3 linked regions of the Homo sapiens genome follow. The protein of the gene in region 3 purifies or fractionates together with the protein of the main gene of each other region. This does not show direct contact. Each region holds a gene or a part of one and is shown on either strand. Other genes may lie near its edges. The genes, in order: PDCD2L, PIP4K2A and ARHGAP22.

What was found.
Region 1: the proteins of ARHGAP22 (region 3) and PDCD2L purify together in Homo sapiens (affinity purification with mass spectrometry; 2 studies listed by BioGRID and IntAct, with this or other methods). This does not show direct contact.
Region 2: the proteins of ARHGAP22 (region 3) and PIP4K2A purify together in Homo sapiens (affinity purification with mass spectrometry; 2 studies listed by BioGRID and IntAct, with this or other methods). This does not show direct contact.

What each region holds. Positions count from the first base shown.
Region 1 is NC_000019.10:34,407,209-34,411,029, forward strand, and holds part of PDCD2L (programmed cell death protein 2-like), read left to right. Parts: intron 1-1,952; coding exon 1,953-2,302; intron 2,303-3,821. UniProt on the Homo sapiens protein: Over-expression suppresses AP1, CREB, NFAT, and NF-kB transcriptional activation, and delays cell cycle progression at S phase.
Region 2 is NC_000010.11:22,712,598-22,716,197, reverse strand, and holds the start of PIP4K2A (phosphatidylinositol 5-phosphate 4-kinase type-2 alpha), read left to right. Parts: upstream 1-1,619; 5' UTR 1,620-1,871; coding exon 1,872-2,015; intron 2,016-2,089; exon of another isoform or gene 2,090-2,262; intron 2,263-3,005; exon of another isoform or gene 3,006-3,148; intron 3,149-3,600. UniProt on the Homo sapiens protein: Catalyzes the phosphorylation of phosphatidylinositol 5-phosphate (PtdIns5P) on the fourth hydroxyl of the myo-inositol ring, to form phosphatidylinositol 4,5-bisphosphate (PtdIns(4,5)P2). Has both ATP- and GTP-dependent kinase activities.
Region 3 is NC_000010.11:48,458,399-48,462,219, reverse strand, and holds part of ARHGAP22 (rho GTPase-activating protein 22), read left to right. Parts: intron 1-2,328; coding exon 2,329-2,536; intron 2,537-3,821.

The sequences.
Region 1 (3,821 bases), on a different chromosome or scaffold from region 3:
TTGGCTCACTGCAGCCTCCGCCTCCCAGGTTCGAGCAATTCTCCTGCCTCAGCCTCCTGAGTACCTGGGACTACAGGCACACACCACCATGCCCAGCTAATTTTTGTATTTTTAGTAGAGATGGGGTTTCACCGTGTAGCCAGGATGGTGTCGATCTCTTTACCTCGTGATCCACCCGCCTTGGCTTCCTGAGGTGCTGGGATTACAGGCGTGAGCCACCACACCTGGCCACTCCAGATTTCTTTAACCACCACTCTACTCTCTACTTCTTTGAGGTTGTTTTAGATTCCACATATAAGTGAATACATGCAGCATTTGTCTTTGTGTCTGGCTTATTTCCCTTAGCAAAATGTTCTCCAGTTCCATCCATGTTGTCACAAATGACAGAATTTCCTTTTTTTTTTTAAGGGTGAAAAATATTCCATTGTATATATAGTAGTTTTTTTAAACTTACACTGAAGGTCTTGAGACACACAGTTTACTGATTTTCCTGTTTGGGAATATATATGGGTGTGTACATATATGTGGTTGTATGTGATAATGTATACGTGTCTTTATAGTAAATATACTTTATGAGAGCTATATATGTATTAACACATTTCATAAGATGAAATCTGAATTTATTGAAAAGGCAGGCAAGTTGGTAGCTGCAGAACACAATTTAGCCTCCCTTTGACTGTAAATGTGTCTTTATATATACACTGAGTTTGTTTGTTTGTTTGTTTGTTTTTTGAGATGGGGTTGCATTCTGGTCACCCAGGCTGGAGTGCAGTGGCATGATCTCTGCCTCTTGGGCCCAAGCCATTCTCCCACGTCAGCCTCCTGAGTAGATGGGATTACAGGCACGTGCCACCATGCCCAGCTGATTTTCATATTTTTTGTATAGATGGGATTTTGTCATGTTGCCCAGGCTGTTCTTGAACTCCTGGACTCAAACAGTCCGCCCACCTCAACCTCCCAAAATGCTGGGATTACAGGCGTGAGACACTGGGCCCGGCCTGCACCCAGTTCTTGATGTTTGCTAGGCATAGTATTAGCAGTACTTAAATAAAAAGTTGAAGACAGTGGTGTTTGCCTATATTTGTCAGGGTTCAGGTGCAGATAATTAGAAAAGTGCTGTTGCTTTTTCTTTTTTTTTTTGAGACCGAGTGTCGCTCTGTCACCCAGGCTGGAGTGCAGTGGTGTGATCTTGGCTCACTGCAACCTCCGCCTCCCGGGTTCAAGCGATTCTCCTGCCTCAGCCTCCTGAGTAGCTGGATTACGGGCACGTGCCACCATGCCTGGCTTTTAAGCTGAGACAGACTTAACACAGGAGTGAGGTTTTTAGTAAGTGGATAGGCTGAAGGAGGAGGCTCCAGGAATGCCCTCCAGAATCACACCTCAGAACTGGCCGTGAAGGAGCTGCTATGCCACCTCTCCTGCTGTCAGGAAGCTTAGGTGTGATCTGGTGAACTAGAGGCTGTCTTTGCCACCGAACCGTTGGCTCCAAAGCCTTGTTCTGTCTGTGTCTACACAATGGCTACCTTTTGCTATGTGGTCTTTCTTTCTACTTCACTCTGTCTCAAGTTCATGTTTCTCTCTAGTAGACCTGATTAGCAGACCCCTAATCATATCTGAAACCCTAGCTGCTAAGGGGTCTGGGAAAGGTAGTTCTTTCTTTTCAGTTCCTGCAATACATGAAGCACAACAGAAAGATATTGGAACGGATGGTTGAATAACCCCTGTACTATATCTGTCACACTCACCCCAAAAAGGAAAGACAAGTATTTTAAGTCACCTCCAACGTGCTTTTGAGTACATAGGGTCTAGAAAGTTTGATTGGAGTGTACCAGAGGGGAAGGGGATGGTGTGAAGGCTCCCTCTGGAAGGCGCGGCGGTGGGTGGCTGGAGCCGAAGGATTAGAATAAACCTCCCAAATGTGCTCGGACCTCATTCACTGAGTATTTTTCCAGAAACAGGGAAACAGCCTTGCAGCTGAGGACTGGTGTGAAGGTGCTGATGACTGGGGAAGTGATACTGAGGAGGGGCCTTCACCACAGTTTACCTTGGATTTTGGGAATGATGCCAGCAGTGCCAAAGACGTAGACTGGACTGCTCGGCTCCAAGACCTCCGCCTGCAGGATGCTGTCCTGGGTGCTGCCCATCCTGTGCCTCCTGGGCTGCCGCTCTTCCTGCCCTACTACATCTGTGTTGCAGATGAGGATGATTACAGGGACTTTGTCAACCTGGATCATGCCCACAGCCTTCTGAGGGACTATCAGCAGAGAGAAGGCATTGCCATGGATCAGTTGCTTTCCCAAAGGTGAGGATGTGTGCTGCTGAGGTTGAGAGGTGACTGGATTGGGAAGCAGCCACAAGAGTTACCCTTCAGTTTCACCACAGGACCTGGGGAAACTTTCAGGCAGAACTTGTATGTAGGACCTTTTTGCTTCACTTCCTTATCAGCCAACTTGAGTTAGCTTGAAAACCCTGCTCTATTTATAATTGCCGTTAAGAAAGTGAAGATGAACAAACAGAAGTTAGAGATGGCAAGTATTTATAGAAGACGCGTTCACTGACTCTTAAATTTTCTTTTATATTTCTAATATGTCTTTATAGCAGAGACAGGCAAGTTAGAAAACTACCATTTGATCTGGGATAATAAGATTGGGGTGAAAAAATGGAAAAAGGAAAAGAAAAACGCCATTTGTTTATTGACTCTTGGCTGTGGCTCCAGAACTGGCCCAGGACCTCAGAGATGCTTTCAGATCCTCAATTCTGTAAAATGAGAGTGATGGTGATATCTCTGTTCTCTGTTTCATCCCATGATTTTTTGAGAGTTAAGCGAGAGGGTAGATCTTGAAAGGCTTTATAAACCAAAGCTCTCTAAAGAGGTAAGAATGATCATTTTTGCTTATTGATTGACTGAGAGAGACAGGGTCTCACTCTGTCACCCACGCTGGAGTGAATTGGTGTGATCAAAGCTCATGCAGCCTTGAACTCCTGGGCTCAGGCAATCTATCTTAGTTTCCCAAGTAGCTGGGAGTACAGGTGCACACCACCATGTCTGACCAATTAAAATTTTTTGAGTTTCGCTGTTGTTACCCAGGCTGGAGTGCAATGGCACGATCTCGGCTCACTGCAACCTCCACCTCTCAGGTTTAAGCAGTTCTCCTACCTCAGCCTCCCAAGTAGCTGGGATTATAGCCATGTGCCACCATGCCCAGCTAATTTTTGTATTTTTAGTAGAGATGGGGTTTCACTATGTTGGTCAGGCTGGTCTCGAACTCCTGACCTCAGGTGATCCACCCACCTCAGCCTCCCAAAGTGCTGGGATTACAGGCGTGAGCCATTGTGCCTGGCCTAAAAATTTGTTTTAGCCACTGCACCCAGCATTTTTTACTATTAGAATAAAAAAATTACAATAGAATATTTGGAGAAATGGCCTGGTTCTTTACCAGAACTGTTTCATTTGTAGGCTTTTTCAGAATAATGATGAAGGGGAATGCATGAAGACATGTTGGTGTTTGAAAATAATCCTTAATAGAATTGATGGTTATAAGGACTTTTTATTTTTTATTTATTTATTTATTTATTTATTTATTTATTTTTGTGTGTGTGTGATATGGGCTCTCTTGCCAGGCTGGAGTGCAGTGGTGCGATCTCGGCTCACTGCAACCTCCCCTTCCTGGGTTCAAGCAATTTTCTTGCCTCAGCCTCCCAAGTAGCTGGGACTACAGGTGCGCGCCACCACACCCAGCTAATTTTTGTATTATTAGTAGAGACGGGGTTTCACCATGTTGACCAGGATAGTCTCAATCTCTTGACCTCGTGATCCACCT
Region 2 (3,600 bases), about 26 Mb from region 3:
ACCATATTTGTGATTGTTTTTGAATTTCATGGTAGCAGCAGGTCCTACAGGCAACTTTTGCTTTGCAAACACTTATTCCTTGACTTAACCCAGCACCACAGCAACCATCGCTCACTTAATCACTAGAAATTTGGCAAACCATTATCTTGTTTTTATCAATCTTTAAAAAATGTAGGTAGGCCAGGTGCAGTGGCTGGTGCCTGTATTCCCAGCACTTTAGGAGGCCAAGGTGGGCAGATTCCTTAAGCCCAGGAGTTCGAGACCAACCTGGGCAGCATGGTGAAACCCCATCTCTACCAAAAATACAAGAAGTTTATCCAGGCTTGGTGGTGCGCGCCTGTAGTCTCAACTACTGGGGAGTCTGAAGTGGGAGAATCACCTGAGTCTGGGGAAGTAGAGCCTGCAGTGAGCTGTGATTGCACCACTGCACCCCCAGCCTGGTTGACACAGCGAGACCCTATCTCAAGGGAAAAAATAAAAATAAAAAAGAGGTATAGCTCACATTTATTTTAATGTTTAATATTAGAAGTGTTTTGAATTTTTACTTTGAAGTTCGGTGATGTTTTTGTAACCGGAAATAATGCTGTAGGAACTTAACTCTTTTTTTATATGTCAGCCTATGGCAAATTTGGTTTTGTTATATGTTGTTTTGCTTAAGGTGACAGTTTCCAAGAACCTACTCCGTGAGGACTGGTGAGCTGGGTCAGAGTAAATAGCACAGGATGACGACTGCAAGGACGATATGGGGGCAGCAGGGTTTTAGACATACTTGGAATGGCAGCTTCCTGAGGTAGGCCAAGTATTCTCAGCATAATAAGGGCTACATTTAGGTGTATCTGGAGGAAGACGGTGAACAGATTTCCACGGACGGTGAGTGCACTGGAAAACAGGCAGGGATGGCAAGTACCATAGTGATGGATTGGAAGAAGGTGCACTTTGGGGCATGATTCTACTGGTTAAGCCAAGGGCTCTCGATGAGGTCCGAGGTTCCTGCCCCGGGCACGGAGTGGGTTGGCAGTGACAGCCCAGCCTATTACGTGGGAGTCTCCCTCTTGAATGGCTCCAGGAGGCCCATATCGAGGGTCTGAAAGGCCAGACGGTTATCCGCACAAAAGTATTAAGTTCATTTCAGGGACTGACCCGGCAATGTGCCCGGGTCCTTCCCCTCGGTGCTGGGAAGCCCTGGTCTCCCTGCAGCATTTCACACCTGGCTGGGTCTCCTGACTCGTGGCGTGGGTGAGTGCATGAGCCTCCCTCCTTCGCCTGATCGACGCCTGGGGGCTCCTCTCCCCAACCTCCTCACTCTGCCCACTCTGTCCTCTCCCTCCTTGGGGAGCGGCAGGGGACGCCTAGCCGGGGTCCCCAGGCTCCCGCTCGCAACCCACGGCCTCCTCCGCGGGCAGGGAGCGAACGCCCGGAGGTCGCCCGCGCACAGGGGGCGGCCCGGCTGCAGCGGAGCCGGGGCGGGAAGGCGCAGCCTAACGGTCCAGCTGCCGCGCCCCGCGCCCCGCACCCAGTGCCCCGCCCGCGGCGCCGCAGCCGCCTCCCGCCTGCCCGCCCGCCCCCTGCGTCATGACGCCGGCGCCCAACGCGGAAGCCGCTCGCCGCGCGCCGGGTCCAGCCGCGGGCTGAGCGCGGATCCGCGGCGGGCGCAGGATACGGGCCGGGGCGCGAGCCGAGCGCAGTCTGCCGGGCCGAGCGGGCGGAGCGAGCCGAGTGGGGCTGAGCGCGCCGGCGGCGGCGGGCGGAGCGGAGCGCGGCGCGCCGGGGCCGCCGCCGGGGGGATGCGGCTGCCTCCCCGGGCCGGGGTGTAGAGAGGGCGGGTCCCCGGCCTCGGGAGCACGGCGGTGGAGGGGACATAGGAGGCGGCCATGGCGACCCCCGGCAACCTAGGGTCCTCTGTCCTGGCGAGCAAGACCAAGACCAAGAAGAAGCACTTCGTAGCGCAGAAAGTGAAGCTGTTTCGGGCCAGCGACCCGCTGCTCAGCGTCCTCATGTGGGGGGTAAACCACTCGGTAAGGGCTCAGCTGCGGCGCGCGGTCCCCTTCCTCCTCCTCCTCTTCCTCCTCGTTCCCCTCCTCCTCCGGCTGCAGCTGCTGCGGGGCGGGGAGCCGGAGTCAGCCCTGGACCTCCGGCTGCTCGCCCGCCTCGAAGCCCCCAGCCCCGCGGCGCGTGCCCCCAGCCCTCTGGGCCGCCCAGGCACCACCACTTGCGTCCCCTTTAGATCTATGGCCCGGTGCGGGTCGGGGGTCCCGTGTGCATGTGAGTCTCACGGTGGGTGCCAGTGCCGCCCCCGGTCCGCCCGCCCGCCCGCAGGTCGGTCCCCGCAGCCTGGGAGGTAGGAAGTTTGTGCGGGGCACGGCGCCTCGGCTGTCAGCCCCGGCGGGAGCTGCTGGGGGCCGGGTCCGGGCGACCGCTACCCGGTGTGGGGGCCGCGCGGCGCCCGCGTCTTCCGCTTGCGGGCAGGTGTACCTGTCCCGGGCTGGGCGCGTGCGAGCCTCCCACTGGGGCACTGGGGCGAGGATACCGGAGCGCGAGCAGATTTGGGGCAGCAGCTTTAGTGCTTAGGTCCTTTCTTTTTCCTTTAAAGGCAATATTACTGGGCACAAGTCGGCTTTTTGGCAAAGCAGCAGCCGATGTAAATATGGCTCTGGCGTCGGGCGGCATCCCTGCGCTTCTCCCGCATCGCCCTGCCGCTGTGCGGGCTGGAGAGCCCTTGGCGGGGAGTCTTCCTCCCTTCGTCGCCTCCCCCCACTTTGGGGAGTCAGGCAGAAGTCACCGACTGCGGAAGGGCGGCCGGGGCGGGGACAGCAGGCGGGGGTCCCGGCGGGCGCGGGCGGAGGGGGTCCCGAGTTGGCCGCACCCGCTGTGGGGGGTGTGGGAAAGGCTGGAGAACGCGTGGAAAGGTTAGCGTCACGCACAGTCGGGGATTGGAGGATGCGCCGCTGCGGGCTATGCGGACTGCGGTTCGAGGGTCTGAAATAGCCTCCTGCTGATCTGACAGCGAGAAACTCCTGCAGTTTTAATCCACTTCGATAGGATCAGGAAACATGATCGGAGCTGTTGGCTCAGCCAGGAAAGTTTAAACGAGCTGTGAATTTTGACCATGACCTTAGCCACTGCAGTCACTTAGCATCTGGGGAAAAGTGTAAGTTCGCTTTCCCTGCTTTTGATTTCGATGGATGTCTGTATGTCCTTTTCAGCGTAATGGAAATGACAGAAAACCATGCTGGTTTTTCGGAAAACACACACACAGACACACACACACACACACACACACACACCCTCAATGTAGTGAAGTTGTTTAAAATGCCTAAAAGCATCGTTTTTGTATTTTTCTTCCCCAAGCTGAGCAGGGGGAAGGGCAAAACAGTATCAGGATCGATCGTGTTTGCATGGAGTGAGTGTTTTTGGAAAAGTTGAGAAATGATTATTTTTATCCAGCTTAATGACTGACTCACTGAAGTTCATTTTAACTTCCTGGCAACTTCTTTAGCTATTTGGGAATGTAAGTTGTTACAAGAGCATGCATTACTGCACCAAAAACTCCTCTCTCAAGTTTTATTACGGAAAATGAAATGCAATTTTTCCTAAGTAATA
Region 3 (3,821 bases):
CAAGCCCACAAGCACACATATGCACATACGTTTATAAGCGCACATCCAGCACATGTGCACACACATGCACACACAAGCCCACACTACATGCACACATGTGCGTACACACTTCTCCCTAAAGCATTGCTGGTATCCAGCAGGTGTAGCCCACGCGGGCATGTGTTCTCAAAGGAAGAGTCTTCACCTTTCAGGTTTTATACACTTTGTTTTTGGGTCAAGCAGGGTGAGGAGGAGCATTTACTGTGTTCTGCTCTGTGCCAGGCACTGTATCAGGGACCGATGTATCTTATTCCAAAATAGCCCCTGGGTGGGAAGCTAAGTAAGACAAATGGAGCCCCACTTTTAGCTGGCTCAGTGCCCAGGTCTCTGAGAAGTCCCAAGCCTGGACATGGAGCTTTGGCATCTTGCCCCTGGAACACCCCACAAGCCACCCTGCAGGGAAGGTCTCTGCACAGTGGGTGTGAATAATGTCAGACACTCCAAAGAGTCAGGCACGCACCTTGTAGAGCTTAGGGGCTGGCACAAGTCTGTTTCTCCAGTTACTGTGCCGTGGTGTAGACAGCTTTATGGATCTCAACTCCTTCCCTTCTTTGCCTGGGCTGCCAGGAACCTCTTAGCCTAGTGATATATTTAGTTTTCATAGATTTTCTCAGAAGTTCCTCTGCCTCCTTCCTCTCTCCCTCTATTCCTCATTTGGTGTCTTGTCATGTATTGTTTTAGATCATTCTCTCTCTGATTTCTTTTCTTTCTTTTTGCTAATGTTATTTAAGAGTAACATGCAGAAAAGCATACAAGTCATAAGTGTACAGTTCAGTGAATTTTCTCAAGAGGAACATAACTGGGTAAGCAGTGCTGGGGGAGAGACACAGTGTTACCAGGACCCCAGAAGCCTTTGAGCCCCTTCCAGTCACTGACCCACCAAGGGAACCATGTCCCGGCCTAACAGCACAGATGCGTTTGACCTGTTTTTAACTTTACATACATGGAGTCATGCAGTGTGCACTCTGGGGTTTGGCTTCTTTTGTTTCTGATGATTTTTTTTGTCTTCTAATTTTTAAAACATTTCATAAAATACACTTAGCATAAAATTTCCTGTCTTCATTTTTAAAGCACACAGTTCAGCAGCATTACATTCATTTCAATTATCGTGCAACCATCAGCACTATCCATCTCCAGAACACTTTCCATCTTGCAAAGCTGAGACTCTGTGCCCATTCAATTCTAACTTGCCATCTCCCCTGTCCCCAGCTCCTTGCAGCCACCATTCTACTTTCTGTCTGTGAATTTGAATACTCCAGGTTCTTCATATAAGGGGAATAACACAGTATTTGTCCTTTTGTGAATGATTTACTTCACATAATGTTCTCAGGTTCACCCATATTTTATCACTTGTCTGAATTTCCCTCCTTTTTAAGGGAATTCAGGCTTAAGGCTGAATCAAGTTCTACTGTATGCAAATACCACGTCTTGGTACTCCATTCATTGATGGACACATGGCTTGCTTCCGCATTTCAGCTACTGTGAATAATGCTGCTGTGAACATGGGTGTGCAAGTATCTCTTTGAGACCTTGCTTTTAATTCTTTTAGGTATATACCCAGGGGAGGGATTATTGGTAATTCTGGTTTTAATTTTTTGAGGAACTGCCATACTGTTTTCCACAGCAACTACACCATCTTATCATCCTGCCAGCAGTGCACAAGGAAGGGTTCCAGTTTCTCCACATCCTTGCCAACACTTGTTACTATCTGATCTTTTGATAGTAGCCATCCTAGTGGGTGTGAGGTGGTATCAGATAGTGGTTTGGATTTGCATTTTCCTAATAATGATTGATGCTGAGTCACGACTATGGTTTTCACATTACTATGTCATCTGTCTTGTCCAGTGAGCTGTGCCTCATTTATTCTCATTGCTGCACTGTGTTCCATGGTAAGAATAGAACACAGGAGATCTGCTGTTGATGGGCACTGGATGGCTTCTCATTTGGAATGACTGCAAAACCAATCAATGACAGGCATAATGAACGCTCCCAAGGGCCATTTGCTCCTGGCTTGGGCAAGCTCCATGGCCAGGTCACACCACCATCTCACTGCTCCCTCCTGCTGTCTGTCCACAGGCAGCCCAGGGCCCAGCCTCCTGGTGTGCATCCTCCCAGCATGTGTCCGGGCGGCCAGGGCACAGCCTTCTGGTATGCATCCTCCCAGTGTGTAATTTGCTTCCTGAGGAGGAGCCACCTTTAGCCCTAACAGTGCGCCTGCCCTCCATTGTCCTGAGCACCCAACACTGAGCTGGGTGGTGGAGGGTGTGACTAGCTCCTCTCTGTGCTCAGGGATCTTTGGGCAGCGCCTAGAGGAAACAGTCCACCACGAGCGGAAGTATGGCCCCCGCCTGGCGCCCCTGCTGGTGGAGCAGTGTGTGGACTTCATCCGGGAGCGCGGGCTCACTGAGGAGGGGCTGTTCCGCATGCCAGGCCAGGCCAACCTGGTGAGGGACCTGCAGGATTCCTTCGACTGTGGGGAGAAGCCACTGTTTGACAGGTGAGCTTGTGATCGGGGGTAAGGTGGAGCCATTTGTCCATTCCTCCTGCAGGGGCTCCTGCCCAGGACACCAGCTCCAGTGGGCAGGGGTGGGCTAGCGACAGGATGGTGGGCCAGCCCTCCTAGTGGGCAGAGTGTAGGGCACACCCTCACTCCGCCAGCCCGGGGTCCCCTCTCAGGATGGATGCCTGCCATGCACGAGGCCAGCTCACATCCACACAGCCTGCCTCCCCTGCACATGCTAATAAACCTGACCCAGGCAGGAAGAAAAGGACCTCTGCTGGCTCCCATGTGAGGACTGACCAGGCGCAGCTGCATCCGGACCCCAGGCCTTCTGCGGGGTCTGTCTCTTGGCCGTGCTTCCTCCGGTGACCTACCCCCAGGCTCTATCAATGGCAAGATGGCACAGCAGCTCGGCTCCCCTCCTTTTGGGTTCTGGGGACAGGAGAGCGAGTCTCCTCCATCTGCTCTGGGGCCGGGGCCATGTCCATCCTACCCATCATGGGGGCTTACCCAGGCCCTGGATGCCCCTGGGTGGAGCCAACTATACCCCCAGCCTAGGGCCGTTTGGGGATTCTGTTTCCCCTGACAGTGCCCCCACCCATTATGGGGCAGTTTTTTCATAGAGTTCTCTCTACATCAGGAAAAACTACCCTCCATGGGGCTTATGCCCTGTCTTCTTGGATCTGCCCCAGGATGGGCCCACCAGGACCTGCAGGCAGCCCTGGCCTCCCAGGGCTTCTCCTCTGGGGGCAGAACACTCAGCCCCTCAGCTCTTTCCCAGGCCCGTCACTGCAGCCAGGGGAGGGTGTCAGCTCCTCTCCTTAGATGTGGAGTCCAGGACTGACCACTGTTCCCTAGCGGTGCTCCACCCAGGGAGGTACGGGGGACCCTTCCTCTGGAGCTTTGTGAAGCTCCATCCCAGTGTTGACGCTCAGTGAGCTTGTCGTCCATTCTGAACCTCAGCCAGCCAGGCCTCTTCCATCCTGTGTCTCAGCGTTAGGGTTGCAGATTGCTTCAAATAATGTCACCTGGGTAAGGCCTGGGAGCCGAGACTTTTGGAAGCTCCCCAGGATCAGATGCTCTGCCCTAGTGCCTGATGCTACCTGAGGGGCTTCTGCAGACACAGATCAGACCTTGCCACTCCCCTACTCAAACTCTGCTGGGGCTCCCTGGAGTGGCACAGGCCGTCTGCGCCTCACCCACACTGCCAAGCTTCTCCCATCCTGCTGGGGGGGTCTCCACCTGGGCACACCTGCTCTCCCAAGGTGTGGTTCCTGGCATG